4 linked regions of the Homo sapiens genome follow. The protein of the gene in region 2 interacts with the protein of the main gene of each other region in a pairwise test. Each region holds a gene or a part of one and is shown on either strand. Other genes may lie near its edges. The genes, in order: THRB, NRBF2, C1orf216 and PPARA.

The links.
Region 1: the proteins of NRBF2 (region 2) and THRB interact in a two-hybrid assay, tested with the Homo sapiens proteins (one study listed by BioGRID).
Region 3: the proteins of NRBF2 (region 2) and C1orf216 interact in binary tests that used the Homo sapiens proteins (3 or more experiments, as listed by UniProt).
Region 4: the proteins of NRBF2 (region 2) and PPARA interact in a two-hybrid assay, tested with the Homo sapiens proteins (one study listed by BioGRID).

The regions. Positions count from the first base shown.
Region 1 is NC_000003.12:24,484,849-24,491,869, forward strand, and holds part of THRB (thyroid hormone receptor beta), read right to left. Parts: intron 1-7,021.
Region 2 is NC_000010.11:63,128,342-63,136,336, forward strand, and holds the start of NRBF2 (nuclear receptor-binding factor 2), read left to right. Parts: upstream 1-4,986; 5' UTR 4,987-5,074; coding exon of another isoform or gene 5,075-5,129; coding exon 5,130-5,159; intron 5,160-7,995. UniProt on the Homo sapiens protein: May modulate transcriptional activation by target nuclear receptors. Can act as transcriptional activator (in vitro). Involved in starvation-induced autophagy probably by its association with PI3K complex I (PI3KC3-C1).
Region 3 is NC_000001.11:35,715,876-35,723,760, forward strand, and holds the start of C1orf216 (UPF0500 protein C1orf216), read right to left. Parts: upstream 3,010-7,885; 5' UTR 2,832-3,009; intron 1,037-2,831; exon of another isoform or gene 626-1,036; intron 452-625; 5' UTR 447-451; coding exon 1-446.
Region 4 is NC_000022.11:46,216,507-46,223,527, reverse strand, and holds part of PPARA (peroxisome proliferator-activated receptor alpha), read right to left. Parts: intron 5,266-7,021; coding exon 5,127-5,265; coding exon of another isoform or gene 5,123-5,126; intron 3,717-5,122; coding exon 3,514-3,716; intron 1-3,513. UniProt on the Homo sapiens protein: Ligand-activated transcription factor. Key regulator of lipid metabolism. Activated by the endogenous ligand 1-palmitoyl-2-oleoyl-sn-glycerol-3-phosphocholine (16:0/18:1-GPC). Activated by oleylethanolamide, a naturally occurring lipid that regulates satiety.

The sequences.
Region 1 (7,021 bases), on a different chromosome or scaffold from region 2:
AATATACCTACAAGTATCATTTTATGACTAAAAATTAAAGCTCAGATCAGCCAAGAGACTTGTCCAGAATATTTTTATTCTTAATTAGGTGATATTTCCATAATGCCACCCATTCCTGCATTCATTCATTCATTCATTATCTTCATCCATTTCTAATCTGGATCATTAAAGAAATAAAATCCCCATCAGTTAGAAAATCACTTAACATTAAATACTGAAATGCTTCACACTAAATAATGAAACTCAACACGACAATGTCAATGCTATTTCAATGTAATCATATAGAAACACGTTCCTGTCAGACAGAGGAGCTATAGGCATGTACATACAATGGCAGAGAAACCCTTGAAGTAATATTCAACTATGAATAGGCTGTGAGATGGTCTTTAAATTAAGCTTCACTTGAAAACATTTTAAAGAGAATCTATCATGTAATCTGCTTTCAAATTAAACTTGAAATTCCCCCAAATGTAGAGCTAGCTTGCTAAAAATATTCATTATTGGAATTAAATTAGAAAAATTTTGCCACATCTCGGAGAAAGTGAAATCTGTTCCCAAAGACATCACAGCAATGTATAACTGCCTCAGCTCCAGCAGGCATCATCTCTCAGTGGACTATTCTAAGAGTCTCTAACTGGGCTCATCACCTCCAGTCTCTCACTCAAGACCTATCCCAAAGAACTCTTTTAAAATAAAAATCTGATTTGCTGAACATTCTTAAGTCTCTTCAAGCTATCAAGACAAAGTCAATCTTCCTTATTGTGCCCAGGAAGGTCCTCGCCATCTGGCTCCTGCCTGCTCCAATGGCCTCATTTATAGTCCTTTGCACATGAGTCAGGCTGGGCTCCTTACAATTTCCCAAATGCTTCATACTTTTACTTTCACTTCATAGGCATATCATATTTATTTCTGCCTAGAACCCTCCCACCCCTATGGGTTCCCACAATGTACATTGTACTTAACTATGTCATTGGACTTACAAATATTTTAATTGTCTGCTAAAGTATTAATGCTACCACTACTATAAATAGCTAATATTTAGAAATACTTGACTGTGACTCAAGCACTATATTATTTCATTTAATCTCCACATATGATAGATGAGGAAACTGAACACATGCAATGAAGCCAGGTGAAACCAGCATACAAATCCACACATTTCCCACTCCACGGCCCCAGTTCCAAACGTCTACACCAGCTGTTCTCAATAGGAGCAGTTTTGCCTCCCAGTAGACACCTGATAATATCTGGAGACATTTTTGATGGTCACAACTGGAGGGTTGGGGGAGCTATTGGCATCTAGTGGGTAGAAGCCAGCAATGCTGCTAAACATCCTGTAATATATACGACAGCCCTCCACAGCAAAGGATTATCTGGCCGCAAATGCCATAGCGTAGAGGAATTACCAGGCTCAAAACTCAAATAGTACCTCTGCTGAGAAACACTACTCTACACTAAATCACCTCCTGTAGATTGCCCCAGAAGATTCCGAGCATCTCATCCATACGACAAGAATTTTTAAATGCTCTACCATGGTGTCTTGGCACTTACCATCGTGTCTGGCACTTGGCAGATGTCCCATGCATTTGTGACCAACGGACAGACTCCAGAAGAAAAAAATTACTTATTATAAGGCTTGATTTTTGTGGCAACTTCAATAAAGATAAATTGAAACACATATTCTTAATCAATGATACATGAATGCATGTGCACCACATTCTAGTGCATGGCTTCACTTTAGCAATACCTTATGTTTATGAACCCATAGAGTGGGAGATAGATTAATAAGCCAGATGCCTAGGATCTTTTTCTCACAAGTCCTCAAGGAGATGAGATGCTTTTCAAATCCCTTATAACTGCTACATTACAGGACAAATGTATAGGTTTATCATCTACATAGGTCATAACTTAACTTGTTTCAAAAAATATTTTCTGTGTAAGGTTCCCTTGGTTCCTTTTTTTTTAAAGAAAAATAACACAAGACTAAACAACCTTATTCTATTCCCTGTTGCAGCTACAATTCAGATATAGGTACTTTATTCTAGATCTCCAGATGTTAGAAGTATAGCAGAAATTGCAGTGAAGCCTAGGTAAAATTTTAAAAGTAAACAGAAATACAGCAGAAATAAACCATTCTCCAGCTTATATAAATTAATACACCTAAACAGCAGAAAGAAAGTCAAGGAAAGATTATGATTATAATGTTTTCAAAGGGACAGAAATTTAGCAGGACTTTTGCATTCTTGCAAAACACTTCAACAACAGGCAGCATTAGCCAGTGTTGTATACAAGTTGCTAGGGGTTTGTGTGTGTGTGTGTGTGAAAAAGCAAAAAGGTTCTGTTGTGGTGCTAGATACTGGTCATTTGTCACTTTTTATGAACTGTATTAAAAGGTTAAAACATATGAGCCTGATTTTTAAAAAGTGTGATATAGTGAACTGTTCCTCACAACCTATTGTGCTGAACTTTTGCCACTTAAGGTTTTAGACACACAAGCACACACACACACACACACACACACAAATAAAATGGTGATCAAATGAATTTTGCTACCTGCTCTCCCCTTTCTTGGACATTTATAATGCATGCTAGTATAAAAATAGGCTCTGGAAACTTTTACAAGTTGTTAAACTCAAGATTTCCCAAACATAATTGAGCCTAGAGTAAAATAAACAAATACAGCAGTAAAAGAAGCAAAAAGTAATAATATAAGAAGAGGATCTGTCAACATATTCAGGAGCAAGTAGAAGGGACTGAAAACAATGACAGGGTTTGTGGCTTGGGACATCAGGGTGACTGTAGCATTTCTCACTGTGATTTAAAAGCTGAGCATGGGAATCACAGCAGAAGCCAGAGACAAGCAGTGCCTTTTCCACTGTATGTGAGAACATGACACACACTTGTCACAGAGACAGATTCTGCAAGTATGGACATGCCAGTTGTTAAGACATTTATGACTATAAGACAGAAATGTGCAAAAAGATGACCAAGCCCAAGAAACATTATGATTGCTATCATCAATCATTATTTTCTGAGCACCTGCTTTGTGTAGACATTGATGAAATCAGAAAAAACAGAATCCCAAGAGAAACAAATGGCAAAGGGAAGAAGTACATCTGAACCATCTTGAGAACCAAGGAACAACATGTCACAAGAGTTACAATACTCAACAGGTTCCTGAATGTCAGGATCATATATTATGCTACTAACACCATGACTATCTTGTCAACATTCCTCATCACAAACATTCCTGAGCCTCCAGGAGTCAAGTAAGTATATTCCCTAATAAAGAAGATATGCCTGCTTTCAGTCTACATTCCTTTGTCCACACTTTTGTTTTAATAAACTTGTCACTCATGACTTTCTTATAAATGCCTAAATTCTTGATCACAGAAGAGAAGCCATGACTCCCTGAAGACCCTCTTTGGGAAGTAGGAAGTTGAATGAGCAATTCAGTCCAGACCAATCCTTTCCTAATTGTGTATGCCTCGTCTGCAGTCCACTCTTAGAACACAGAGACATGTATGTATTGAGGTGTTTGTGCATGTGTGCATATGATATGAAATAAACTATAGATAGTATTTGTTAAAATAGGATTAGGAAAAATAAAAATTGGATAAAACATGCAGATCAGCAAGACAAACGTAAGTTGAGATATGTAAGCCACAAGTTTCTTCACTGTGATGAGTTGGACCATGAATTTGCCTTCTTTTTTTTTTTTTAATCTCTAAATCACGATTGTCTCAGCAGATCTGAGACAGATGTCAATGATTTGCACATTGTCCATTGTTCAGTAATTTTCAAATAACTAGAATAAAATAAGCTATTCAATACAATTCAATATATCTTAACTGCTAAAAGAATATACTTCAAGATCCTTCACTGCCTTAAATGAATGAGTAGTAACTGGAAAAATAGCTTTAATAGACAGAAGGCACTGTCTGACAAATAGCAAACAACTGTTTGCTTTTAGCACATAAAGTGGTAAGATGATATCACAGAGGGTTTTCGTTAAGTTCCTTTAAATTATTTTGCCATAAAAGATTTTTTAAATAAAAAATATTGCTTCTTAGAATAATTTTAAACATATCGATGGATGTTGGTCAATCAATAAAATCAACTGAATGATTTCAGTGGTGGTTCATGCCTGTAATCCCAGAACTTTGGGAGGCTGAGGTGGGCAGATCACGAGGTCAGGAGATCGAGACCATCCTGGCCAACATGGTGAAACCCTGTCCCTACTAAAATTACAAAAATTAGCTGGGTGTGGTGGCATGTGCCTGTAATTACGGCTAAGGCACAAGAATCCCTTGAACCTAGGAGGTGGAGGTTGCAGTGAGCCGAGGTTGCACCACTGTACTCCAGCCTGGCAACAGAGCAAGACTCTGTCGCAAAAAAAAAATAAGAAAAAAAAAAGATTTAAACCACTATACCAATATCATTTAATTTCTGGTAAGCACTGACCAGCAGACAGTACAAGATTATCACAGATTATCTTCTTGCAAAAGCCTCAAATGCAAGTATTCTGGGTTGCTACAGGTAGATCTGCCTTCTGTGCAAATTTAATGTGTCTGAGCAAGGGAGATGAGCCCTGTTATCAAGCACATCTACATCTATCAGAAACACTTTCCAGGGAGTATATCAGATTGTTAGGACTGACTGTCATGATGGAAAAGCTACAATATGGTTCTCAGGACAGTCAAGGTTCCTAGGTCCTAATTCCAGACTCCCCTGATTTGCTATTTGGAAAAGATCCTGAAGTTCACAGCAGAACTCAGTTTCTCAACTCAATAAAAATAGCACTGCACAAGAGCTGACAGTATATAAAGACTTCAAAGTCCTTTGAAATTAGGACAGTAGGGACCAAACAACATTAGCATTGAGCATAGATCACTATTCTAGCTGTCAGTTGGCCAGGTTCCTGAGAGGAAGATATGGAAATATATTACTTGTGACTCAGTGATTTGGATACTCCCCCCCACTTGTTTAAATGCCAAAATTGACTAACAAGTTTGGGAACTTAAATTGGAGAATGAACATTTTAAATCAGAAGCTCACCGGTCTAAATATATTCAACTCCCCTACTACTTGGATACAAGAGATTCTTGAGTGAATCTCACTGGAATTTACATTAATATACATGGGCTATAGAAATCACAAACAATCACCTCCTCAGATATAAAATAACTATTTTTAGGGGCCATATGAGAGACTCCAACAGGTATACTCATCTCATCACAATGGAGACAATTTCAGAATCCTTTTGTATTAATATGTTGTCTCATAGGTCACTGGGCTGCATGCTGAACTGAAAAATGGCTAGCAGAGCCAGGTACATAGTAGATACATAAATATTTGTAGACTGAATGAGGAATCAAATCAAAGAATCAGAATGACTTTAAATAAAACAAGGAGTTAACTTGCCATCCATTGCTCAACCAGCTTTGACACTAGAACAAGCCCTTCAAGCAAAACAGACAGCTGTGATCTGGACATATGATGCAATGCAGGCAGCAAACGTTCACTCTGGACAAATCCAAGTCCAAATATGACACTTAATACCAACCCAGAAGGGAAAGAGAAGCACTGCCTTTTCTACCCTTCCATTCATTCTTCCAACAGTGTTTCACCTGTGCCCATGTACCAAGCTCTTTGCTAGGCTATGGGGAGTCAAAGATGAATAAACCCACACATCGTGCCTCATCACAACTTAGAGGTGGGAACAGAAATGGAAACAAACTGCCCTGCAGGGTGATAAGAGCTATATAGACTAAAGCCCAAAGCATCAGGGGCCACATATTCAGGGGTGTTTATGGCCATAGGGTCATTTTCAAGTACCTCGTTGTCCTGTCCTCTCAAATTGCTCTAATCAAAAGTTGGCTGACACACTAGATATTTGGGAAAATTAGCTTACAGAGTGTGGTAACCACTCATTCCTCTAGGTTTCCTGAGCTTTATTTCTGCATTGGGATTCATCACCAGAATCTCCACTGATAGGCCATAGTAGCTCAGGCCCCCAACAATAAACATACTGGGTTACTTTTCATTATTATGTCTTCTGCAATTTTTTTCCATTCCAGAGTTGGTAACAAGACAAGATCATATAAAGAACCTCACTTCACTTTATGTAGAATTGAAGTTCAAGTATTATCCATGATATAATTTGATATTTCATACGAGTATATACTAGTTGGCAAGCACCATGGCAGGCACTCTACATGTGTCATCCTTACAAGTTTAATGCATGCCACCTCCAGACCCCCTTTTTTTCTGTTAACTTGGCTACTACTAAGAAGCTCAGAGCCAAATTAAATACTCTAAAGCAGTAAGCACTTAGGATTGTAGTTTAATTATCTTCCCTCCTCTACAAGATTTTGATCTTTCTTCCCCTCCCATTTTTAACAGTCTGATTTTGTGAAATTTTTACTATGCATTTACTCAGCACACTTATGAAAGTCAATACTCTAGACACAAAAACAAATCACCATAATCTTCAATTATAATTTCCTTTTGCTCTCAATTGGCAAGAGTTTCCATGAATAACTAATTTGAAGATGACTCCTTTGATATTATGCTCTGGTCACTTGAAAACTCAAATAATGCAATATTTCCCACCATCATTTGGTTCAGAATACTTTTATGAAGCGGCAAAAGAGGGCAAAAAGAGGCTGGCTGACTTAACTAATAACATATGATAACCATCAGGTTATTTTCAAAGCTATCACCAAGACCTATTTATTTCTATCTTGTGTTGGATCCTGACCATTACATTTTGCCCCCTCACCAACCACCACTTTTGCAGCCCAAATTGTACCACCATGCACTGGTTGGTCCACTTAGGGCTGCCATTGCCAGAGGCACTGCCAGGACCTGCTGAGTGAGAAGACACTGCCATCACCCAGTGAAGTCTAGTCCCTGGAATTTCACTCTTAGCACTGGCAATGCTTCTGGAACTCATAAAGATTCTGCTGAAATTCAGGGAGTTGAAGGTCAATGTCTTCCAGGGATCAAGGTAACATGT
Region 2 (7,995 bases):
TAAAAATACAAATATTAGCTGGGCGTGACAGTGTGCACCTGTAATCCCAGCTACTCAGGAGGCTGAGGCAGGAGAATTGCTTAAACCCGGGAGGCAGAGGTTGCAGTGAGCCAACATGGCACTACTGCACTCCAGCCTGGGTGAAAGAGCGAGACGCTGTCTCAGAAAAAAAAAAAAAAAAACCACCAACAAACCTCTCACTAGGGACTCTCCACTAGACCATACCCAAATAGGGCAAATGCTTAGCTATAGCCAATCAAGTAATTACTTCCACATTCAAGGAATAAAAGTTCACTGCCTCTGCTGCTGTGGGCAGCTCTCTGAAATTTTGAGTGCTGCCTGATTCACGAGTCATTCTTTGCTCCAGTAAACTCTTCTACATTTAATTCGTCTAAAGTTTCCCTATTAACAGATGTTGGCTGGGCACAGTGGCTCACACCTGTAATCCCAGCACTTTGGGAAGCTGAAGAGGGTGGATCACCTGAGGTCAGAAGTTTGAAACCAGTCTGGCCAACATGGTGAAACCCTGTCTCTACTAAAAATACAAAAATTAGCTGGGCAAGGTGGCTCGGGAAGCTGAGGCAGGAGAATCCCTTGAACCTGGGAAGTGGCGATTGCAGTGAGCTGAGATCGCACCACTGCACTGCAACCTGGGCGACAGAGCAAGACTCCATCTCAAAAACAAACAAACAAACAAAAACAGATGTGAAATCTTTCATTTGTATGTGCCAGATATTTTGTATTACTCTTTCCAGATCCGGTCTCTACTTCTTACTACCCTGCTCCCTGCCCTTGGAGGCTGATTTTTATGAATTACATCAATGGGCTCCCTTGCCTTCTGGCTTTTGATTGGGTTTGGACAATGGAAGTCAGGGGAAGAGGAAATAAGGTGATTTCCCTGGATCCTCCCTGCAAGGTCACCTCAGGATAGTGTCCTTGATTGAAGGTCAGTGCTTCTTCAAACTATATTCTACATTTTTCTCCTCATTTCAGATTTCCCTCTTATTCATTTCTCTTTCTTTTTTTTTTTTTTTTTTTTTTTTTTGAGACAGAGTCTTGCTCTATCTCCCAGGATGGAGTGCAGTGGTGCGGCCTCAGCTCACTGCAACCTCTGCCTCCCAGGTTCAAGTTATTGTCGTGCCTCAACCTCCAGAGTAGCTGGGACTATAGGCATGTGCCACCATGCCTGGCTAATTTTTGTATTTTGGATAGAGATGAGGTTTCGCCATGTTGGCCAGGCTGGGCTTGAACTCCTGGCCTCAAGTGATCCGCCCACCTCTGCCTCCACCTCCCAAAAGTGCTGAGATTACAGGTGTGAGACACTGTACCCAGCCCCTTCTATTTCTTTCTTTATAGCCTAGGAGTTATTGCTTTTCTCATGTAAATACCTAAACTCTGGCCACACCTTTGTAAAACAGTCCGTTTATTAAACCCTTCTGGGATTATTTTGAGTATGTCATTGATTTGCTTTAGATACAATGCCTCTGGTAGTCTCAATAATGGTCCGAAAGATACCCAGGTCCTAATCTGTGGAAGCTGAGAATGTTACCTCATATGGCAAAGGGACTTTGTAGGTATGATTAAGTTAACCTTGAGATAGGAAGACTATCTTTAACTATTTTGTGGACCAAATGTATTCACAGGGTCCTTACTAGAGGGAGGCAGAAGGATTTTAAGAGGAAATGACATGACAAAAGCAGCAAGAGCTTTGAAGATGCAGTGCTGCTGGCTTTGAAGATGGAAGAAGGGGCTGTGAGTCAAAGGAATGCAAAGAATGTAGCTCCAGAGGCTGGAAAAGAAGGGGGCAAGGCCTTGCTGTATACCTTTGTTTTGGCGCTATGAAATTATTTTGGTCTTGGCCGGGCATGGTGGCTCACGCCTGTAATCACAGCACTTTGGGAGGCCGAGGAGGGTGATTCACGAGGTCAGGAGATCGAGACCATCCTGGCTAACACGGTGAAACCCCGTCTCTACTAAAAATACAAAAAATTAGCCAGGCGAGGTGGCAGGCGCCTGTAGTCCCAGCTATGTGGGAGGCTGAGGCAGGAGAATGGCGTGAACCCCGGGGGTGGAGCCTGCAGTGAGCCAAGATCGAGCCACTGCACTCCAGCCTGGGTGAAAGAGCGAGACTCCGTCTCAAAAAAAAAAAAAAATTATTTTGGTCTTCTAGCCTCCAGAACTGCTAGCCTCCAAATTTCTGTTGTTTTAATCCACTAAATGGGTAGTAACTTCTTACAGCAGTCATAGGAAATTAATACAGTGCCCAAGATAGAACTTTTCATTTTCCATACAAATTAGCTCCTTCCTATTGTTACCAGGGGGTCTTTGTTCTTAGAGCTCCCAAGATGGTGGCAGGCCACTTCCAAGATGGCGGCAAGCCTTTTGTTCTCTGACCTGGGGTTCTTGGCCTCACGGATTCCAAGGAATGGAACCTTGGGCCATGCAGTGAGTGTTATAGCTCTATTAGAAGCCGTGGGTCACAGAAGAGAACCGTGGAACCCAGCAACTAGTGTTCAGCTCGATTAGGACAAACCCTGGGCACTTAGCCTTGCAGGAACAATGGCGAGCCTCTAGCCCGATTGGGAGCAGCAATGGGCGCCTCGCTGGATCAGGAGCACAGTGGACACCCTGATGGATCCAGAGGGGTGGAAGTCAGCGGCGGGTCTGTGATGGCAGCAAACAGCGGTGGTGGACGGTGAGTGAAAGCTCAGCTCAAGCTGTAACAAACATGGACCAGAAGAGTGTGCAGTTGCAAGATTTAATAGAGTGAAAACAGAGCTCCCATACAATGGGAGGGGACCCAAAGGGGGTTGCCACTCCCTGCTCGAATGCCTGGGTTTATATCCTGATCATTGTCCCTCCCCCTGTGCTCTCAGGCGATATATGATTTGACTATTTCTTTACCTTCTGCTTCTAGCCTAATTTGTATTTTAGTGAGCCCTCTTTACTACCTGATTAGTCGGGTGTGAACTGAGTTACAAGCCCTGTGTTTAAATGTGGGTGTGGTCACCTTCCCCAGCTAGGTTTAGGAATTCTTAGTTGGCCTAGGAAATCCAGCTAGTCCTGTCTCTCACTATCTTGTCCACTTGGTTGTTTACTTTTTTATTTTTTTATTTTTAGAGACAGAGTCTCTCTGTGTCACCCAGGCTGGAATGCAGTGGTGTGATTGGTCTCAGCTCACTGCAACCTCTGCCTTCCAGGTTCAAGCAATTCTCCTGCCTCAGTCTCCCCAGTAGCTGGGATTACAGGCACGCGCCACCACACTTGGCTACGTTTTAGTGCTTTTAGTAGAGATGAAGTTTCACCACGTTGGCCAGACCAGTCTCAAACTCCTGGCCTCAAGTGATCTGCTCTCCTTGACCTCCCAAAGAGCTGGGATTACAGGGGTGAGCCAGTGTGCTAGGCCACTTGGTTGTTTAAATACGAGATTTGATTCTTCCATTTTCTGTATGCTTTACTGCCATTCCATCACTAACTCCTCTCAACCTGATGCCCAAAAATATATCTTGAATATATCTACTTCTCTTCCAAGGTTTCCGGCACATGGTAGAAACATGATAACTATGTAATGAGTGGATGCATGACCCAATCTTCCCTACTTCCATTCCAGTCTGAGCGCCCATAATTAGTCAATCAACTAGCTTGTCTTGGTTCTTTTTCCTTAGGCCTTCCACAATCTATTCTTCACATTACAGGGAAATTAATCTTTTCAAAACTGTAAATTAAAGCAGATTATTCTCTAGCTTAATATCCTTTACTTATTTCCCAATGCACTTTGAGTAAAATTCAAATGTTTCATTGTGCACTGCAAGGACACCTATGTTTTGGAAGTTTCCTATCTCTCTGGTATCTTCTTTTGCATCTCTCTGAAATGCTGCAGCTCCCGCCACCCGACCTCCCCGCCTTTAGAGTTGAGGCATAAGACATTTCCTTTGTCGAGAAGGGTCTTTGTTTAACTGGCATTTTAAGGTTTAATCTTAAAGATTACGCCCTTAGCCAGGTGCGGTAGCTCATGCCTATAATCCCATCAGTTTGTGAGGTCCAGGAGGGCGGATCATTGAGCTCACTTGAGCTCAGCAGTTCAAGATCAGCATAGGCAACATGGCGAAACCCCATCTCTACAAAAAATACAAAAATTAACCTGGCCTGAGCACTTGTAGTTCCTAGCTACTTAAGAGACTGAGGTGTGAGGATCGCCTGGGGCAGGGGGCGGGCAGAGGGAGGTTGCAGTGAGTGGAGATTGCGTCAGCAAGACACTTTCTCAAAAAAAATCACGCCCCCCATGAAAGGCTTTCCTTTACCACCCAACTCCACCTTGGTTACTCTATCACAGCTCCCTATGTGTTCCCTTTCCAGCATAAATCACAACTATTTGTCAGTGAATTCCATGACAGAACGAACCTAGCTTTTGTTTGGCACATAATTGTTAAATGAATGCAGTATTATATTTGGCTAGACCAAAATTGTTTCCCTATCAGTTTGTGAGCAACTTGAGGGCAGAGCCCTAAATCATTCGAGTGTGCTGACCTCTAGGGGGGTTAGTCCAGTGCATGGTCTAGAATTGCTCAAATCGGCCTTTTGAAAAAATGAATCATGTACAATGATAAAGGTGTGGACAGGACCACAAGTAACGGTGTAACGATTAGCAGATTTAAGGAAAAGTCAGTCTAAAAGGAAACGTGAGAAGCTAATTGCAGAAGACAGCCATTTCAAGTCTTCAACAGCAAGGCTGTACCTCCTCACGTGACTTCAGTGTAGACTTTAAGAACCTAAACTAACGCTTCTCGCGAGAGGAAAGATTGACCGCTCGCAAGCGTACATCAGCTGGTGCCCCGCCTTCCCTGGGCCCCACCCACTGCCTGTCCTCATTCCCACCTTGAACCAGCCTTTTGCGCGTGTGACGTCATGGCGCCGTGCGTGGCCTCGGCGGTGGCGCAGGGGGCGGGCCCGCGGCGCGGCGCCGGAGGAGGAAGTGGTGAGGTTGTTGCTCCTTCAGCGCCTATCGCTGGCTCTTGGGGCGCAGAGAGGGGCCGCAGTCTCCGCGGCTGCGTCGAGCTCCCTTGCAGTCCCCTCCATGTTCCCCGGCGCCACTACTCCCCTTCCTAAGGCCGCCGCTTACCCCGGGGTCTATGGAAGTAATGGAAGGACCCCTCAACCTGGTGAGTGTCCCACAGAATATAGCGTTCGTCTTGGGTGCCTTTGCCTCAGGAGCCCGGCCCCGTCCCCGGCGCGTCGGCTAACCCTTTAGGCTGGGAGGTTGGTTTGGCAGGAGTGGTCGCAGAGGCTGTGAGGGGCTGCTAGGCAGGCCCTGGCCCAACTGCGGCTCCAGGCTAGCCACTTCAGACTTTGCCCTCCTGGGGGATCCCCGGGAAGTCCTGGCGCCCCCTGTCGCGGGGCCCCGGGCGAGGGGATGCCACCACCTGGGGCTGCCACCTCCTCTCTGGCTGGGGGAAGTCCTCTTAGCGCCACGTAGCCACCTCCCTACAGCCTGGAGAGGCACTGAAGCCGGCCAAGGCAGAAATGGTGTGATACTGGTTTTAAGTTCTAGCAGCAGGGTCTGAGTCTGAGTCGCCCCGCTTTGGAGAGGTGGAGGAGTGAATAGCCTCCTCACCCTCCACTTCCCCCTCCTCACCCTTCACTTCCCCCTCCTCACCCTCCACTTCCCCCTCCTCACCCTCCACTTCCCCCTCATTTCTCACATACATTCACATGCATAAACTGAGTCTACCGTCTTCCAAATATATTAGAGACAGCTGGGAAAAAGACAGCCGTTCCTGTATTTAGCTCAGATTCATCAATTTAGGCATCATGAAAGTGTAATAGGTGTTTGCTGTTCTCAGGAAAATGGCTGATAGCCTGTTTACTTGTGTTTTAAGGCGTTTCAGGTGTTGCAATTAAAAAACAACACAACAGAACCCCACTAACAACGGGAAGCATGAGTTCTTTTCAGACTGGCCATTGCATCTTTTAGTTTTCCAGAGAGGTTACCCATTTTGGATGTAAAAGTCAGATTACTTAAGGTTGCACACAGGAAGAACTTTTGAGTCACAGGTTTGCAATTCATTTGCGATGGTGGAATTGAAAGAAAGCTCTATAGAGGATTCTTTTCTCACATTAGAACTCTGAGTCCTAGAAGAGCAGTAGAGTCAGGTGGTTTAAGACTCTAGGTTTTGAAGCTATGCTGCTTGGATTTGAATTCTAACCTCGTCACTTGATATCTGTGTTACCTTGGGCAAACTACTTGGCTTCACTCGGCTTCAGGTTTTTTGGGAGGATTAAAGGAGTAAATAGGTGTAAAGCACTTAGAACTGTACTAAGTACATAGTACAGTGTAAGAGTTAGCGATTATAACCAGACCATAAGCCCTTAATTTAAAATCTATTTGTAGAATAAAGGTTTGGACTTGAGCTTTAAAAGCCTAAGATTCTCGGACCAAATCACTGGTGCCAGGTTAACTGTTGTGAGGCGCCCCTCCCTTTTAAGTTGGGTCTTGCCCCAGGTGGTAGGTATTTACACTTAAGACGAATTGGACTACATTTGCGAGTTTTTTTTAACCAGGGAACTGGCCAGGCGCCGGGGCTCACGCCTGTAATCCCAGCACTTTGGGAGGCCGAGGCGGGCGAATCACTTGAGCTTAGAAGTTCGAGACCAGCCTGGGCAACATGGCGAAACCCGGTCTCTACAAAAAATACAAAAATAGCCTGGCGTGGTGGCGCCCGCCTGTGGTCCCAGCTACTCGGGAGGCTGAGGTGGCAGGATCGCTTGAGCCCAGGAGGTGGAGGTTGCAGTGGGCCGAGATTGTGCCACTGCACTCCAACCTGGGCGACAGAGCGAGACTCTGACTCAAATAACCAGGGAACTGTCTTGCACTTTTCTTGTTTTTAAGGCGACATATAGTTGGCAATGAAATACAGTGGATGGCTCAATACTGAAACTTCACAGGAGTATTACTAGAAATAATCAGCTGTTTACGAAGTGCTTCAGAGTTCAGGTGTCCTTGCCAAATGAGCATTGGTTCAGTTCTAGTTAGCTTCACATTATTTGGCTGCAGAATAACCCCCGCCAACTGCCCCACGAATGTGTGATGTTTTAAAAGGAGACTAGAACTGGGTGACAGTTGCAGATAGAACTGCAGAATCACTACCAGTTCAGGAAAAATTAGTTAAATGGTGGCAATACCATTTAAATTCTCCTCCATAAAACGGAGCGAGTTTCGACAGAGTCTTTTTAAGCAGGCTAGCGTAACTCCGTATTTCAGCCATAAAATTTATGTAGGCAAGTATCAGAAATTTGGCATCTTGAATTCTTTTTTTTTTTTTTTTTTGAGATGGAGTCTCTCTCTGTCACCAGACTAGAGTGCAGTGGCGCGATCTCAGCTCACTGCAACCTCCGACTCCCTGGTTTAAGCGATTCTTCTGCCTCAGCCTTCTGAGTAGCTGGGATTTCAGGCACGCGCCGCCACGCCCAGCTAATTTTTGTATTTTTAGTAGAGACGGGGTTTCACCATGTTGGCCAGGATGGTCTCGATCTCCTGACCTCGTGATCCCCCCGCCTGGCCTCCCAAAGTGCTGGGATTACAGGCGTGAGCCAGCGTGCCCGGCGGACACCTTGAATTCTTAAACCATTTGAGTCTTGAAAGATCTAATTTCCAGCATAGTTGTTTATTGGAAGGTAACAGTAGAACAGACGTTGACGGTTACTTGAATGAGTACCAATTACAGGCCTCTGGCACTCAGAATTGTCACTCACAGTTTTATAAGATGAGGTTTTTGAAAATTCAGACTTTTTTTTTTTTTTTTTTTCTTTTTTGAGACGGAGTCTCGCTTTGTCACCCAGGCTAGAGTGCAGTGGTGCGATCTGGGCTCACTGCAGCCTCCACCTCCCGGGTTCAAGCAGTTCTCTGCCTCAGCCTCCTGAGTAGCTGGGATTACAGGCATGCACCACCCTGCCCGGCTATGAAAATTCTGACATTCTTTTATGTCAGTGAACACCTAA
Region 3 (7,885 bases), on a different chromosome or scaffold from region 2:
TGGGCCACTGAGGGCAGAAGGGGATCGGGAGGGCCAGGGCCTCGCGGGGTCCCACAGGCAGGCTCAGGACTGCTGCTACGGCTGTCAATGCTCAGGGAACTGCTGGCATAGCCGTTGTCCTCCAGAGGGGAGCAGACTGTGCCAGCACCACCCATCTTCTCAGGCTCAGCCCCGGGAATCTCTGCCCCCTCTGGGGGGCTGCGCACCCCTTCCTCAGGGGATCCAGGGGCCTGGAAGGCTTGGTTGTCAGAGGGTGACTCAGAGGAGCTCCTCCTCAGGATAGGTTCCACTCTGCCTGGCATCCCATGCCAATTCTCGTTAGCATCCTTGGCACTTGCCATGAAGTTGGAGTTGCTGTCTGGTTGGAGCTCGGGCTGACATAATCCAGGAGGTGGGTCCCCCAGGAATTGGCCCCCCTCAGCTAGCCCTGGCTGGATGGCGAACATCTAGCCTGTAAAGGGAAAGCAGGAGACCGAGTCACAGTAGGACAGGGTGGGGTGCCTGAAGTCAGGGCAACTTAGCTGCAGGGACAAGGCTGCAAGCAAGAGCCTGGCCACTCCCTGTCAAGCCCTTTCTCTTGACTCTGGTAACACTTCCCTTCGTGGTTTTCGTCCTCCCTGTCTACCTGTTCATTCTCAGTCTCCTGCAAAGGGTTTTTCCTCCGTCCTCAGAGCCAGGCTGTCTTCTGATTTTGTGCATTTCTCTCCAGAGGACCTCATTCTCTGCTGTAGCTTCAAAGACCATCATATGCTGGTGACTCTCAGATCTGTCTTCAGCCCAGATCCAACTGCTATCCAACCCTGCAACCAACCATAGTCTCCTCAAATTCTACATAACCAGTCCAGGCATGGTGGCTCATACCTGTAATCCCAGCACTTTGGGAGGCCGAGGCAGGCAGATCACCTGAGGTCAGGAGTTCGAGACTAGACTGGCCAACATGGTGAAACCCCATCTCTACTAAAAATACAAAAATTAGCCAGGCATGGTGACAGGCACCTGTAATCCCAGCTATTTGGGAGGCTGAGGCAGGGGAATCACTTGAACCCAGGAGGCAGAGGTTTCAGTGAGCCGAGATTGCGCCACTGCACTCCAGCCTGGGTGACAGAGTGACATCATCCCCCTCCACCACCGCCCCCCGCCAAAATTCTACATAACCAAACAAGCTCTCCTTCAGTATCCTCAGCAAGATGGCTCTGTACTCCATCCAGAAAGCTGAGAGCATCCTGGGGTCCTCACTATCCTTCCTTCTCCCATCTCATTAATAACCACATTCTGACCATTCTTCCTCTTCCAGGCCATTTCTGACCTGGATTATTGCCTCGGCCTTTTCACTGATCTCTCTGCCTCCAGTTAAAAATGTAAATTTCACTTGTCACCACTCCTAATGCCCTCCCTGAATTCCTGCTAAACCTCTACCTGGCCTACAACACCCTGTTTGATCTGGCCCCTGCTCACCCCTCCATACCTGCCTCTTGCCACTCTGCCCCTCCCATCATAGCAAACTGCCCAGAGATCTCAAAACACACCATTGTTTTTCTTACAGTATTCCTTTGGCCTACAATATCCTTCCTCTCCCCTCCCCTCAAAGCTCCTCCCTTCTCCACCCAGCAAATTCCTTTTTGTACTTCAAAATTAGCTGTAATATCCCCATGTTTCCATGTCCCCATGTCTCTGAAGCCGTCTTGATACTGCCCCAATCAATATTACATAAACAAGCACGGTTAGTTATGCCTTCCTCTGGGTCCCCACTGCGCTGGGTATACACTGTCTTATCCAACTTTGCATCCGTCCCTGGCATACATGGTCGACGATCAGTGAATGTCTATTCAACTGGCATTTTTGGTTTGTGGTAATGATCTTGTAATAGCAGTTTGTAATCTGGCTTGGACCTCCTGTATATATCCTCCATCATATTCCCCAGAGTCAGCCAGCATAGAGCCCTGAACCAGGCTGTCTGTGCATACAGGTACTTGCTAAGTGAGTGAATGGGAGAAGAGACTGCAGTGAATTTCCATGCTCAGGAATCCACTCTTGACTCCCCAGGGCTGGAAGAGCTGGGTTCTGGAAGAGCTGGGTTTGGTTCCCTTTCCTACCCCAGCCAGGGAGCCCCGCCTTCCCCAGTGACAAGCTTTTCTTCTGAGCCTGCCCCCTTCCCTCCCAATGCCTCTGGAACACAGCCACTATCTTGCGGTCCCCGTCCCTAGCTTGCTCCATTCTGAGGCCCTGGAGGGAGGGCATACCACACCACTCTTCTCTCCTCCATAACCTGCTTCTAACCAAAATTAGGATTTGAACTGACAAAGGGATTCTACTGACCAAACAGCACTGGGATTAGAACAATTGAAGAGCATGAAGAGGAAGGGTATTGTAAGTGGAGCCGGCACTGGAAGGCGCTCCATAGGTGGCATGGACCCTCCCCACCCCCAGCAATGGGCAGAGAAGTCCTGGGGAGAAGGGTGTAGGAACAGTTCGTTTCTAATCGCCCTCTAAGCAAGGCTTGTGGGAAGGTGCCTAGAGATCTCCCCTCGCCCCAATTTTTTATTTTTCCTATACTTGGATGGGGCCGTGAAGGAAGCTGGGATGGGGTGGGGGTGGCGCTAGGGATCACAGGGTTCTCAGAGATAGTAAAATGAGAACCCCGACACGCCAGGACTAGGTCTCCGCCCAAACAGGAGGCAGCCTCCTTTTCTGGCCTTGCGGGAGTGGGAGACCACCCCAGGAGACAGAGACCATCCTTCCCTAGTCTCCTCGAAGGAGGCCACTGTGACTCCCCGCTTCCCGCGGCTGAGCCCCAAGCCCCACCCCGCCTCGGGCCCCAGACTCGGACTCACGGCGTAGAGGCGCCCGCTCCGGCGCGTCTGGCTCTGGCTCCGCCCGGCCCTGGTGGTGTCTAGTCCCTGGGCTGGGGGTTCCTCGGCCTGGGCGTCTCCGCGGTCCAGGCGTGGGTGCGGGGCTCCCGGGCAGCGCGCCCAGCCCCAGTCCCGGACTGCGGAGTCAGGCGGCGTCTGCGCAGCAGGGCGGAGCGACCGGTCCCACGTGGGCCGGTTCGGTTTTCCGCGGAGCCCCGCGCCAGGCCCCTGCGCCGGAACCGCTTCGCCCCCGCGCGGGGCCGCGTTGACCCAGGCCTTCCAGGTCCGGTGCTCTCTCCTATTGGCATTCGCTGGGCCCTTCCCATCAGTTAGCCTCGCTGCAGACACCGTGCCATTTTCAAGTGAAATCTGATTAGTCACCACCTTCCGGCGTTAAACTCCTCAATGGCTTCCCCACCGCCGGGACAACCCCTAAGGCGGTAGCCGCGGGGCTCTGTGCGTCCTGCCCTTCGTCTGCCTCTCCGGCTTCGTCCTCTACCCTCCCTCTCCGCAGTTACCCTCCCACACGCCCCTTTCCGCCACGCGGCTTTGGCACGCACTGTTCCCTCGGTCTAGCATTCTCTTCCCCCTCTCGACTTACTCCTATTTCAGATCTCTTCTCGGAGAGATCTCTGACTCCCTAGATCACGTTCGTTCCCCCCTTTATGTCAGAGCACATTCCTTTTCTTCATAGCATTTATCACAATTTGGAATTATATATTCCTTTTTGTGCTTACTTGACTAAAGTCACTGAGGCCGGGTGCGGTGGCTCACGCCTGTAACCCCAGCACTTTGGGAGGCCGAGGCGGGCAGATAACCTGAGGTCAGGAGTTTGAGACCAGCCTGGCCAACATGGTGAAACCCCATCTCTACTAAAAATACAAAAATTAGCCGGGCTTGGTGGCGGGCGCCTGTAATCCCAGCTACTTGGGAGGCTGAGGCAGGAGAATCGCTTGAACCTGGGAGGTGGAGGTTGCAGTGAGCCAAGACTGCACCACTGCACTCCAGTCTGGGCAACAGAGTGGGACTCCGTCTCAAAAAAAAAAAAAAAAAAAAAAAAAAAAAGAGAGAGAGAGAAAGAAGATCCAAGCCTGGGACAGGGCTCAGGGCTGATGTCCTGTACCCGGGACGGGGGCTCTCCGCAGGACACAGAGCCCACCCATGATGCCTGTGAAGTGGGTACCAGTGCTTTTGCCCAGGTGAGGAGGAACAGCGTGATAAAAAAGGGTCTTGGGTTCCAAACTCCAGTGGATTCTTCTCAGAGCTCCACTCTACTGAAGCTTGACCCCCCTCACTCTTTTGCACCCTGGGGAAATGTGAAGTTGGGGGCCCTGTTTGGAATAAAAGAGAACAGAGTTCAGTAATTGCTGACCCTAATATATGAGGTGCCCTCTTCCAGTTTCAATTTGATTCCAAGTCACCATTCTGCAACCTAGAGACTAATTGGCAAATTAAATCACACCAAGAAATCCTATATGCAAAAACAGGGAAAATGGAAAAGAAATTTTTATGATTATGATGACTATTTTAAAAGGGAAAAGGAAATAAGAAGGAGAAGGCAGAAGTAATTCAAACTTTGCACACTCCTCCAGCTAAGAAAATACAGGTGGAGACGTCAGCCCCATTTCTACATCAGATCCTGTGGCCTAAGTCTTCTCCCTTCCCTTATCCACTTCAGGTTCCCCTGGCCTTCAGCCTGGGGTGACCCAAATCCTCACTTTTTTTTTTTTTTTTTTTTTTTTTGAGATGGAGTCTCGCTCTGTCGCCTAGGCTGGAGTGCAGTGGCGCAATCTCGGCTCACCGCAACCTCCACCTCCCGGGTTCAAGCGATTCTCCTGCCTCAGCCTCCTGAGTAGCTGGGATTACAGGTGCATGCATCACGTCAGCTAATTTTTGTATTTTTAGTAGAGATGGGGTTTCACCATGTTGGTCAGGTTGGTCTTGATCTCCTGACCTTGTGATCCACCCACCTCGGCCTCCCAAAGTGCTGGGATTACAGGCGTGAGCCACCATGCCTGGCCCAAATCCTCACTCCTAAAGGCTCTCAGCTTTGGTGATCTAGGGTTATGCAGTTCTGCCCAGACCACAGAGCCATAAAGTCATCAATTGTTTGTTCTGCCCAGAATAGCCCTTCTCCGCCTCTCTTTGGACTCTGTCTCTCCCAGCTTAACCATGTGGGTCAAATGAAAGCCTGAAGAATCCAGGGATAGGAGCTCCACTCCAGGTGAGCCAGTCAGAGTCCTTCTCTGGGATCTTCTGAAACGAAATTAAAGGAAGACGAGGCAGGGAAGAAACAGAGATGAGAGATAGTTCTGATAATGTTGCAGACCCTGTTTCCTGCATCTAAACTTATAGTTTTGTATGCCTTATTTTGCCAAGCCTAACTTGAGTGGAATTTCTTTCACCGACAATTGAAAGAATGCTGATTACTACAATAGCACAAGGTGGTGACCCCAGGGTCTCTGGGTTCCATTCACGCACCTCTCAACACTTATTAGGTAACAGTAACTCCCTTTCTCCTTGGTAGCCATGATCAGTCCAGTCTACACTGAGACCACCCCCTTCTCCTATTCCTCTAGTGCTACCAGGAGCCGAAATCCCAGGGAATCATCTTTGTGTTTCTTGGTTAGAAGAAACATTCCTCCCATGATGCTATCACCATGTTTTGTTTTGTTTTTTTCCCAAGACAGAGTTTCACTGTCACCCAGGCTGGAGTGCAGTGGCGCGATCTCAGCTCACTGCAACCTCCGCCTCCCAGGTTCAAGTCATTCTCCTGCCTCAGCCTCCCGAGTAGCTGGGGTTACAGGCGCGTGCCACCACACCCGGCTAATTTTTGTATTTTTAGTAGAGACAGGGTTTCACCATGTTGGTCAGGCTGATTTCAAATTCCTGACCTCAAATGATCTGCCCGCCTTGACCTCCCAAAGTGCTGGGATTACAGGTGTGAGCCACTGTGCCTGGCCGATGCTATCACCTTCTGACCTGCAATACCCAGAATCTCAGAGACAGGAAGAAAACTCTTAGTCCTTAGGTAAATCATATAAGGTGCCACAACCACCGCTACCTCTTCTTGTTATGCATTCTGGCCACAAAGGACAAAGCATTATATACATTGATTTAAAGCCTATATTGGGCCTGGTGTGGTGGCTCACACCTGTAATCCCAGCACTTTGGGAGGCCGAGGCAGGCGGATCACTTGAGGCTGGGAATTCGAGACAAGCTTGGCCAACATGATGAAACCCCGTTTCTACTAAAAATACAAAAATTAGACAGGCATGGTGGTGCGCGTCTGTAATCCCAGCTATTCAGGAGGCTGAAGCAGGAGAATCGCTTGAACCCAAGAGGCAGAGATTGCAGTGAGCCAAGATCGTGCCACTGCACTCCAGCCTGGGCGATAGAGTAAGACCCTGTCTCAAAAAAAAAAAATTAAAATAAAATAAATAAAGCCTATATCGTGCTCTGCAGGGCAGCACCCCAGCCTGGAATAGCTGAGTCATCAATTCCATTGTTCTAAAAAGCTAGTTATTCCTTTTTTTTTTTTTTTTTTTGAGATGGAGTCTCTCTCTGTCACCCAGGCTAGAGTGCAGTGGCATAGTCTTGGCTCACTACAACCTCCACGTCCTGGGTTCAAGCAATTCTCCTGCCTCAACCTCCTGAGTAGCTGGGACTACAGGTGCCCGCCACCTGGTGAATGTTTGTATTTTTAGTAGAGGCAGGATTTCACCATGTTGACCAGGCTGGTCTCAAACTCCTGACATCAGGTGATCTGCCTGCCTTGGCCTCCCAAAGTGCTAGGATTTCAGGCGTGAGCCACCACACCTGGCCTAAAGCTAGTTATTCCTAAATAATACAATACCTGCTAAGTCAAGTGAATTCATTTAAAGGAAATCAGATTGTAGTCTCTCTCTTTCTTTTTTTTTTCCCTGAGACGGAGTCTTACTCTGTTGCCCAGGCTGGAGTACAGTGGTGCAATCTCCATTCATTGCAACGTCCGCCTCCCAGGATCAAGCGATTCTCATGCCTCAGCCTCCTGAGTAGCTGAGACTACAGGCGTGTGCCACTGCACCGGCTAATTTTTGTATTTCTAATAGAGACAGGGTTTCACTATGTTGCCCAGGCTGGTCTCAAATTCCTGGCCTCAAGTGATCTGCCCACCTCGGCCTCCCAAAGTGTTGGGATTACAGGCGTGAACCACCACACCCAGCCTGTAGCCAGTTTTGTTAATCAAGGGCAGTGTTGTATGGAATATTCTAGCACTGTATAATTAATACAGTCAGTGCTCACACAGCAGTCCTGGTCACTCCATAATTTTCAGAGCTCAAAACCTGAAGAAAAAAAAGCTCCAAATGCAGGGATGTCCATGTCCACAGGAAGACAAAAAAGCAGCTATAGAGATGCCTGTTATTCATTTGCCAGAGGCTTTTCCAGTGAGGACACCAGAGAATAATTCACCCCCAAGTGAAAGGGTATCTGTGGCTGGGTTCACCTACCCACATATATGCCAGGAACTTAAGTGGCAAGGACACAGAAACCTCCAGAGATGGCCAGTATCAGCCTGAACAGGGCTTTGCAAAAGGCCATGCCATCAAGACCCAATGATGGACAGCGGGTAAGCCTCTTGGCAAACAGATGTCAGAGCCAAGAGAGGCTAGCAGTGAGTAGCCAGATCCAGGTCCCAGGGCCTGGGGTGTCAGGCAAGGAGACCAGAGAAGATGAGAGGAATTTCTCATCCAGGAAATAGGACAGGCCTAAGGGTTATTCATAGGTGGATAATTTCTCAATATCAGTATTCTCAGGAAGAAAGGGGTGGGTAAGATCAAGGTGTTTCAGCTTCAAAGACCTTGTCCCTTCCCACCCATTCATTTACATGTATCATACAGTTACAGAGTGCTTACTTTGTGCCAGGTACTGTGTTGGGAATTCAGAGCAGAATCAGAACTGGTCGTGGTCTTGGGGAGCTCCTTGTTTAGAAAGGGAAACAGAAGTCATGGTGTGTTGGCTCATGCCTGTAATTCCAGCACTTTGGGAGGCCGAAG
Region 4 (7,021 bases), on a different chromosome or scaffold from region 2:
GGGATTACAGGTGCCCACGACCATGCCTAGCTAATTTTTGTATTTTTAGTAGAGACGGGGTTTCACCATATTGGTCAGGCTGGTCTCCAACTCCTGACCTCAGGTGATCCACCTGCCTCAGCCTCCCAAAGTGCTGGGATTACAGGCATGAGCCACCGCGCCTGGCCTATTATTTATTTCTTTAAGGCCAAAATGCAAACAGATTCCCGCCTGCTAGTTGCTGCATGTGACCCTCAGCTGAGGGTGATGGGGTTCCTAGAGCTTGGTGGTCTCCAAGGGGAGGTGCAGGAGGACTCCAGGAGTCCCATTCGCACCCCATGGTGGGGGCAGGTTGTTAGGAAGAAAGACAACTTAACTCTGCTTCGAATTTTTTTTAGAGAGTCTCGCTTTGTCGCCTAGGCTGGAGTGCAGTGGCGCGATCGTGGCTCGCTGCAGCCTTGAACTCCTGGCCTCAAGGCATCCTCCTCAACCTCCCAAGTCGCGGGGACTATAGGCATGTGCCACCATGCCTGGATAATGTTTTTATTTTTTGTAGAGATGTGGTCTTGCCATGTTGCCCAGGTTGGTTTTGAACTCCTGGGCTCAAGCCATCCTCCCATCTCAGCTTCCCAAGTACCTGGGACCACAGGCACATGCCACCATGCCCAGCTAGTTTTTTAAAAAATCATTTTTTGTAGAGACGAGGTCTCCTTGTGTTGCCTGGTCTCAAACTCTTGGATTGCCTCAAGTGATCCTCCCGCCTCAGCCTCCCAAAGTGCTGGGATTACAGTGTGAGCCACTGTGCCCAGCCTGCTTTCAATTCTGAAATCCAAGGGAGAAATATAAGCTGGCAAACAAAAGTTTTAGCCATCCCAATTTTGGGCTGTACTAATCATATCCAGGATAGAGACTCGAAGCTAAAAGTTACCTTTTCTTTCACTCTCGTAATCCAGGAAAGTTCTAATTGGGACAAGCCTCTGGAGCTGCCTAGTGTGGGTGTCTGCTGGAAACTTCTAAAATGTCTCGGCCTATTTAATTGGAGAATTCACTGAAGAATTAAAGGACTCAGTAAAGAAGAGGTTTGGTTTGTTCATGAAAGTAAGTAGCTTGTGAAATGCTTTATTTTCCTGTGACTAAAATTCCACCTTGTAATTCCCAATAAGGATTGCTTCAAGCTATTTAATACAAATTAAACCTGTTTCACCATGCTCATAGGAAAATGTCAAAGTATCTTCATTCACCAACTGAGGGCTGGCTCTTCTTTGAAGGTAGCTCTGAGATTTGTTTTGTAATGGAGACAAAGACTTATTTAACTGTTGGGGAGGGGGAAGGAGGACTTAGGCCAGGCAGGCGGGGATGTGGGGGACGAACCATGAGGGGCAATTTGGCTGCCTCTGAAAAGGTCCAGAGCTACCTTAAAAGACAGGCTTTCTATAACAAGTGGTCCTTTCTTTTCCTTTCTTTTTTTTTTTGAGACAGAGTCTCACTCTGTTGCCCAAGCTGGAGTGCAGTGGTGCGATCTCAGCTCACTGCAACCTCCAGCTCCCAGGTTCAAGCAATTCTCCTGCCTCAGCCTCCCAAGTAGCTGGGATTACAGGCAACCGCTACCATGCCCAGCTAATTTTTTGTATTTTTAATAGAGATGGGGTTTCACCATGTTGGCCAGGGTGGTCTCAAACTCCTGACCTCAAGTGATCCACCCACCTCAGCCTCCCAAAGTGCTGGGATTACAGACATGAGCCACCGCGCCCAGACACAGCTGGCTTTGTCGCCCAGGCTGGAAGTGCAGTGGCACGATCTCGGCTCACTGCAAGCTCTGCCTCCTGGGTTCACGCCATTCTCCTGCCTCAGCTTCCCAAGTAGCTGAGACTACAGGCGCCCGCCACCACGCCCGGCTAATTTTTTGTATTTTTAGTGGAGATGGTGTTTCACCATGTTAGCCAGGATGGTCTTGATCTCCTGACCTCGTGATCCGCCTGTCTTGGCCTCCCAAAGTGCTGGGATGACAGGCGTGAGCCACCACGCCTGGCTTACAAGTGGCCCTTTCTAAGCCCCAAGATGTCACTGTCTTTTCACTGAAGGCGGAAAAAGAATGTAGGCATGTTTGTCTGAGAGGGAGGGAGTAGTTTTAGGAGAAAGGACCAAGAGCACATTTTGAGTGGGAAGTAAGTGGTTTCCTTTTCTAGCCTTATGATATGGTTTGGCTCTGTGTCCCCACCCAAATCTCATGGTGAACTGTAATCCCCAGTGGTGGAGGTGAGGCCTGGCGGGAGGGACTGGATCATGGGGGTGATCCTTCATGAATGGTTTAGCACCATCCTCTTGGTGCTACTCTAGTGATAGCGTTCTCACAAGATCTGATGGGTGAAAAGTGTGTGTCTCTTGTTTTTGCTCCTGCCATGCAAGACGCCTACTCCCACTTCACCTTCTGCTATGAGTCAAATTCCCTGAGGCCTCCCCAGAAGCAGAAGCTTCCTGTACAGCCTTGTGGGCCACGAGCCAATTAAACCTCTTTTCTTTATAAATTACCAGGTCTCAGGGATTTCTTTATAGCAGACTAATACACCTCAAAGTAGGGATTTATTTTATTATTCTATTTTTTTTTTGAGATAGGGTCTCGATCTGTCACCCAGGCTGGAGTGCAGTGGCATGATCTCAGCTTGCTGTAACCTCTGCCTCCCGGGTTGAAGCAATTCTCATGCCTAAGCCACCCAAGTAGCTGGAATTACAGGTGTGTGCCACCCTGCTCAGCTAATTTTTGTATCTTTAGTAGAGTTGGGGTTTCTCCATGTTGGCCAGGCTGGTATCAAACTCCTGGACTCAAGCAATCTGCCCACCTTGGCCTCCCCAGAGTGCCAGGATTACAGGCATGACCCATCTTGCCTGGTCAGTTTTTTTTTTTTTAAATCCAGTTAATGCTGGGTGCCATGACTCACACCTGTAATGCCAGTGCTTTGGGAGGCCGAGGTGGGAAGATCACTTGAGGCCAGGAGTTTGAGACCAGCCTGGGAAACATCTCATCTCTACCAAAAAACAAAAACAAAACAAAACAACAACAACATCAAACATAGCCAGGTGTGGTGGTGCACACCTGTAGTCCCAGCTCCTTGGGAGGCTGAGGCAGGAGGATTGCTTGAGCCCAGGAGTTCAAGGCTGCAGTGAACTATGATTGCACCACTGCATTCCAGCCTGGGCAACAGAGCAAGAACCTATCTCTATTTAAGAAAAAATGCTCCTAAGAAATCATCTTAGTACTTGGTAAGCTATTAAGGTTTTTTTTAAGTGTATTAATTACATAGCCAGTATAATAACTTAGTTGCTAAGAGCTTTGAGGTGGCTCCAAGCAAGAAGAAAGGAGTTGTTGTTAAGCTACAGCTCAGAGTCTCAGAATGAACTGTTTCCATCTTCGCTGTCCTTTGCTTAACTGTGGGATAAATATAATTTTCTCAACATTCAACACATGTGTCCTTAATCGTCCTCTACGACACTGGTTCCATGTTGCCAAGAGAACCCAGAACAGCCGCAAACACCTACTGGATTGTTACTGGCCTTTCCTGAGAGGATGACCCGGGCTTTGACCTTGTTCATGTTGAAGTTCTTCAAGTAGGCCTCGTAGATTCTCTTGGCCAGAGATTTGAGATCTGCAGTTTCAGAATCTTCTATGTCATGTTCACAGGTAAGAATTTCTGCTTTCAGTTTTGCTTTCTCAGATCTTGGCATTCGTCCAAAACGAATCGCTAGGGTTTGGAGGGGGAAACACAGGCATGAGCAGTGAGGTCATGACTGCGCGGACAGGGCTGGACGAGGGGCTCCCCCAGGACTTTAAACCAGGAATGAAAATTCACAGGCAGTTCAGACCCATCCTTCATTACTATTCGGCTTTCCACTATGGAGAGATGAAAAACTCAAACTCCATACACTGTAGATGTTTAAACAGGTGCAGGCTGAAGGTGACACCATCGTTAACAGGTGCAGGCTGAAGGTGACACCATCGTTCGTCTCATTAGTAGGGTGCACACCACTATCAGGTGCATCATCAACCTTTGAGTGAAGGAGGTGAACGGGGCTTCGGGATGAGTTTATATAATAACTGCTTCTTTTTCCAGAAGGTAGACATGCAACTCTTATGAACGACTTACATTCACATCACAATTAGCATGTTCTGAAACTATTAAATGATTGGCTAGAAGGAAATTCATAACGTGGTGAGATGTTTGAGGTGGTACACCCTTCCTATGGACGAGGTGAACATTCTGTCATTTTGGTGCCTTCCACTTGGTTTTTCGATTCTGTATCAAAGTCTTACCACTGAAGTTTCTAACAGCGAGTCCAATGCACCACTGAATCTCAGCTATTTGAGACTTTTTCTTTTTTTTTCTTTTTTTTTGAGACGGAGTCGCACTCTGTCGCCCAGGCTGGAGTGCAGTGGTGCGATCTCAGCTCACTGCAACCTCCGCCTCCCGGGTTCAAGCTATTCTCCTGTCTCATCCTCCCAAGTAGCTGGGATTACAGGTGTGCACTACCATGCCCAGCTAATTTTTGTATTTTTATTAGAGACGGGGTTTTGCCATGTTCGCCAGGCTGGTCTCAAACTCCTGACCTCAAGTGATCCACCCGCCTCGGCCTCCAAAGTGCTGGGATTACAGGTGTGAACCACCGCACCTGGGAGACTTTTATTTTCTTTCTTTCTTTCTTTTTCTTTTTTTTTTTTTTGTGAGACGGAATCTCCCTCTGTCGCCCAGGCTGGAGTGCAGTGGCGCAATCTCAGCTCACTGCAACCTCCGCCTCCCGGGTTCAAGCGATTCTTCTGCCTCAGCCTCCCGAGTAGCTGGGACTACAGGCATGTGCCACCACACCCAGCTAATTTTTGCATTCTTAGTAGAGACGGGGTTTCACCATATTGGCCAGGCTGGTCTCAAACTCCTGACCTGAGGTGATCCACCCACCTCAGCCTCCCAAAGTGCTGGGATTACAGGCGTGAACCACCGCGCCTGGGCGACTTTTATTTTCTTAGGCCACTCTGATTACAAAATGACTTGGGTGTGAAATGTTGAAGCACATTCATCCATAGCTTGATCTGTTCCCTTGGAGCAAGGAAGGGGAACTGAGGAACGAACTGGGAAAATGTGCAGGGCCACCTTACCTACCGTTGTGTGACATCCCGACAGAAAGGCACTTGTGAAATCGACAATACTGGCATTTGTTTCTGTTCTTTTTCTGGATCTTGCAGCTGCGGTCGCACTTGTCATACACCAGCTTGAGTCGAATCGTTCGCCGAAAGAAGCCCTGTGAGGGTAATACACAGTGGATTTAAAGACCTGGGCCACTGAGAAACCAGCGCACTTGCTTTACTCACCTTTTTTGTTGCTCATTTATTGTTTCTTTTTAAATGAACAAAATTTAGAGAAAAGTTATTCCAGGCCAGGCATGGTGATCATGCCTGTAATCCCAGCACTTTAGGAGGCTGAGGCGGGTGGATCACCTGAGGTCAGGAGTTCGAGACCAGCCTAGCCAACATGGTGCAACCCTGTCTCTACTAAAAATACAAAAATTAGCCGGGCATGGTGATGTAAGTCTGTAGTCCCAGCTACTCAGGAGGCTGAGGTAGGACAATCACTTGAACCCAGGAGGCGGAGGTTGCAGTGAGCTGAGATTGTGCCACTGCACTCCAGCCTGCGCGACAGAGTGAGACTCCATCTCAAAAAAAAAAAAAAAAAAAAAAAAAAAAAGAAAGAAATAGTTCTTCTAAGAAGTCTGGAATGATTAGGACAAATACAGAACTTTAAATGTCGTTACATTTAATGTGAAAAACAATAAAATGAGGCAGCATTCGAAGTCATTTCAAAATGCCCTCATCTGACTTGGGAAAACACAATTATAGTTTTCCAAAGAGTTACTCAGCCTTGTTACAATGTATATGAATGTAACTATCCCCAGCATTGTGACATTTCCATATTTGTGACTAAAGACTTTCTAAGAATTTTTGTAAGAGTATATTAACTCCCTCAAAGACAAAAATTATAATAAAAGGAAGCCAGCTGTTTGTAAACAATTTTCTTGCTTTGTAAAAGCATCTTAAACTCTACCCAGCAAGAAACAATGTTACTAAATAGTCCATAAAAAACAAAACTAAATGAATAATTAATCATGGCCCTAAGGAAAAGGCCACTTTATAAGGAGCTTTTTCAAAGGTATATGGTTAGAAAACATGCGAAGGAGTTCATTTTTGCTTTGGGTTCTTTTTTCTCTTTGCTTTTAAGTCATTCTTCTATATTTTTGCCACAGTGGGTCTGCTTGGCCCGCGGGAGAGGGACAGCAGTGTGCAGGGGAATGTGAGAGGCAGGCTGACGTCTTCATAATGTCCTTACCTAGGCTTGCACAGTGGGGAGGCTGAGGAACGCATGGGGTTAGAATGGGAAGGGTGGGGAGACAGGCTTCTAGACAGCAGAGTGCCACAGTGTCCTGGCTGTGAGGTTCTCCCTGTGGCCCAGGCCTCTGAGGCCAGGCCTGGCTCAGGGCAGAATGCTGGTGTTCCAAGATGGTACATTGTGCCAGAAAGGCGGTGGCATTTTCCAAGTTAGTGAACACCTGCAGCGTGCACCGTGAGAAGGGATTTCTGATTCAAACCAAACATTCAGATGATGATCTCCCACATATCACGTACATAAGGCGCCAGACTTGAGCACGTCTGTGCAACCCTAAAGGGACGCTGCTACAGGAGCTCTCCTCATCACCACGCTGACAAACACGGAAGGGCCACCAGTCCAGCTGGCAGCATGCAGGACAACAGGGCCTGCCTTCATGCACTCCTGGCCCAGGTCACATCTGTTTAGGGCAGGCTGAGCCAGCAGGAGGATGAAGATGCACAGGGGGTTCCTGTCGCTTGAATCAGGTGGAGAAGCCCCTGATGTGCAGGAAGGAACTGCTGGGGAGCAGGAGCAGCCAGTCTCTGGTTCCAGTCCCTGCTGCTGGGGGCTGTGGGACCCTAAGCAAGATACTCTGTGTCTCTGATGGCCAATTTCCCTGGCAGGAGCATGAGAAC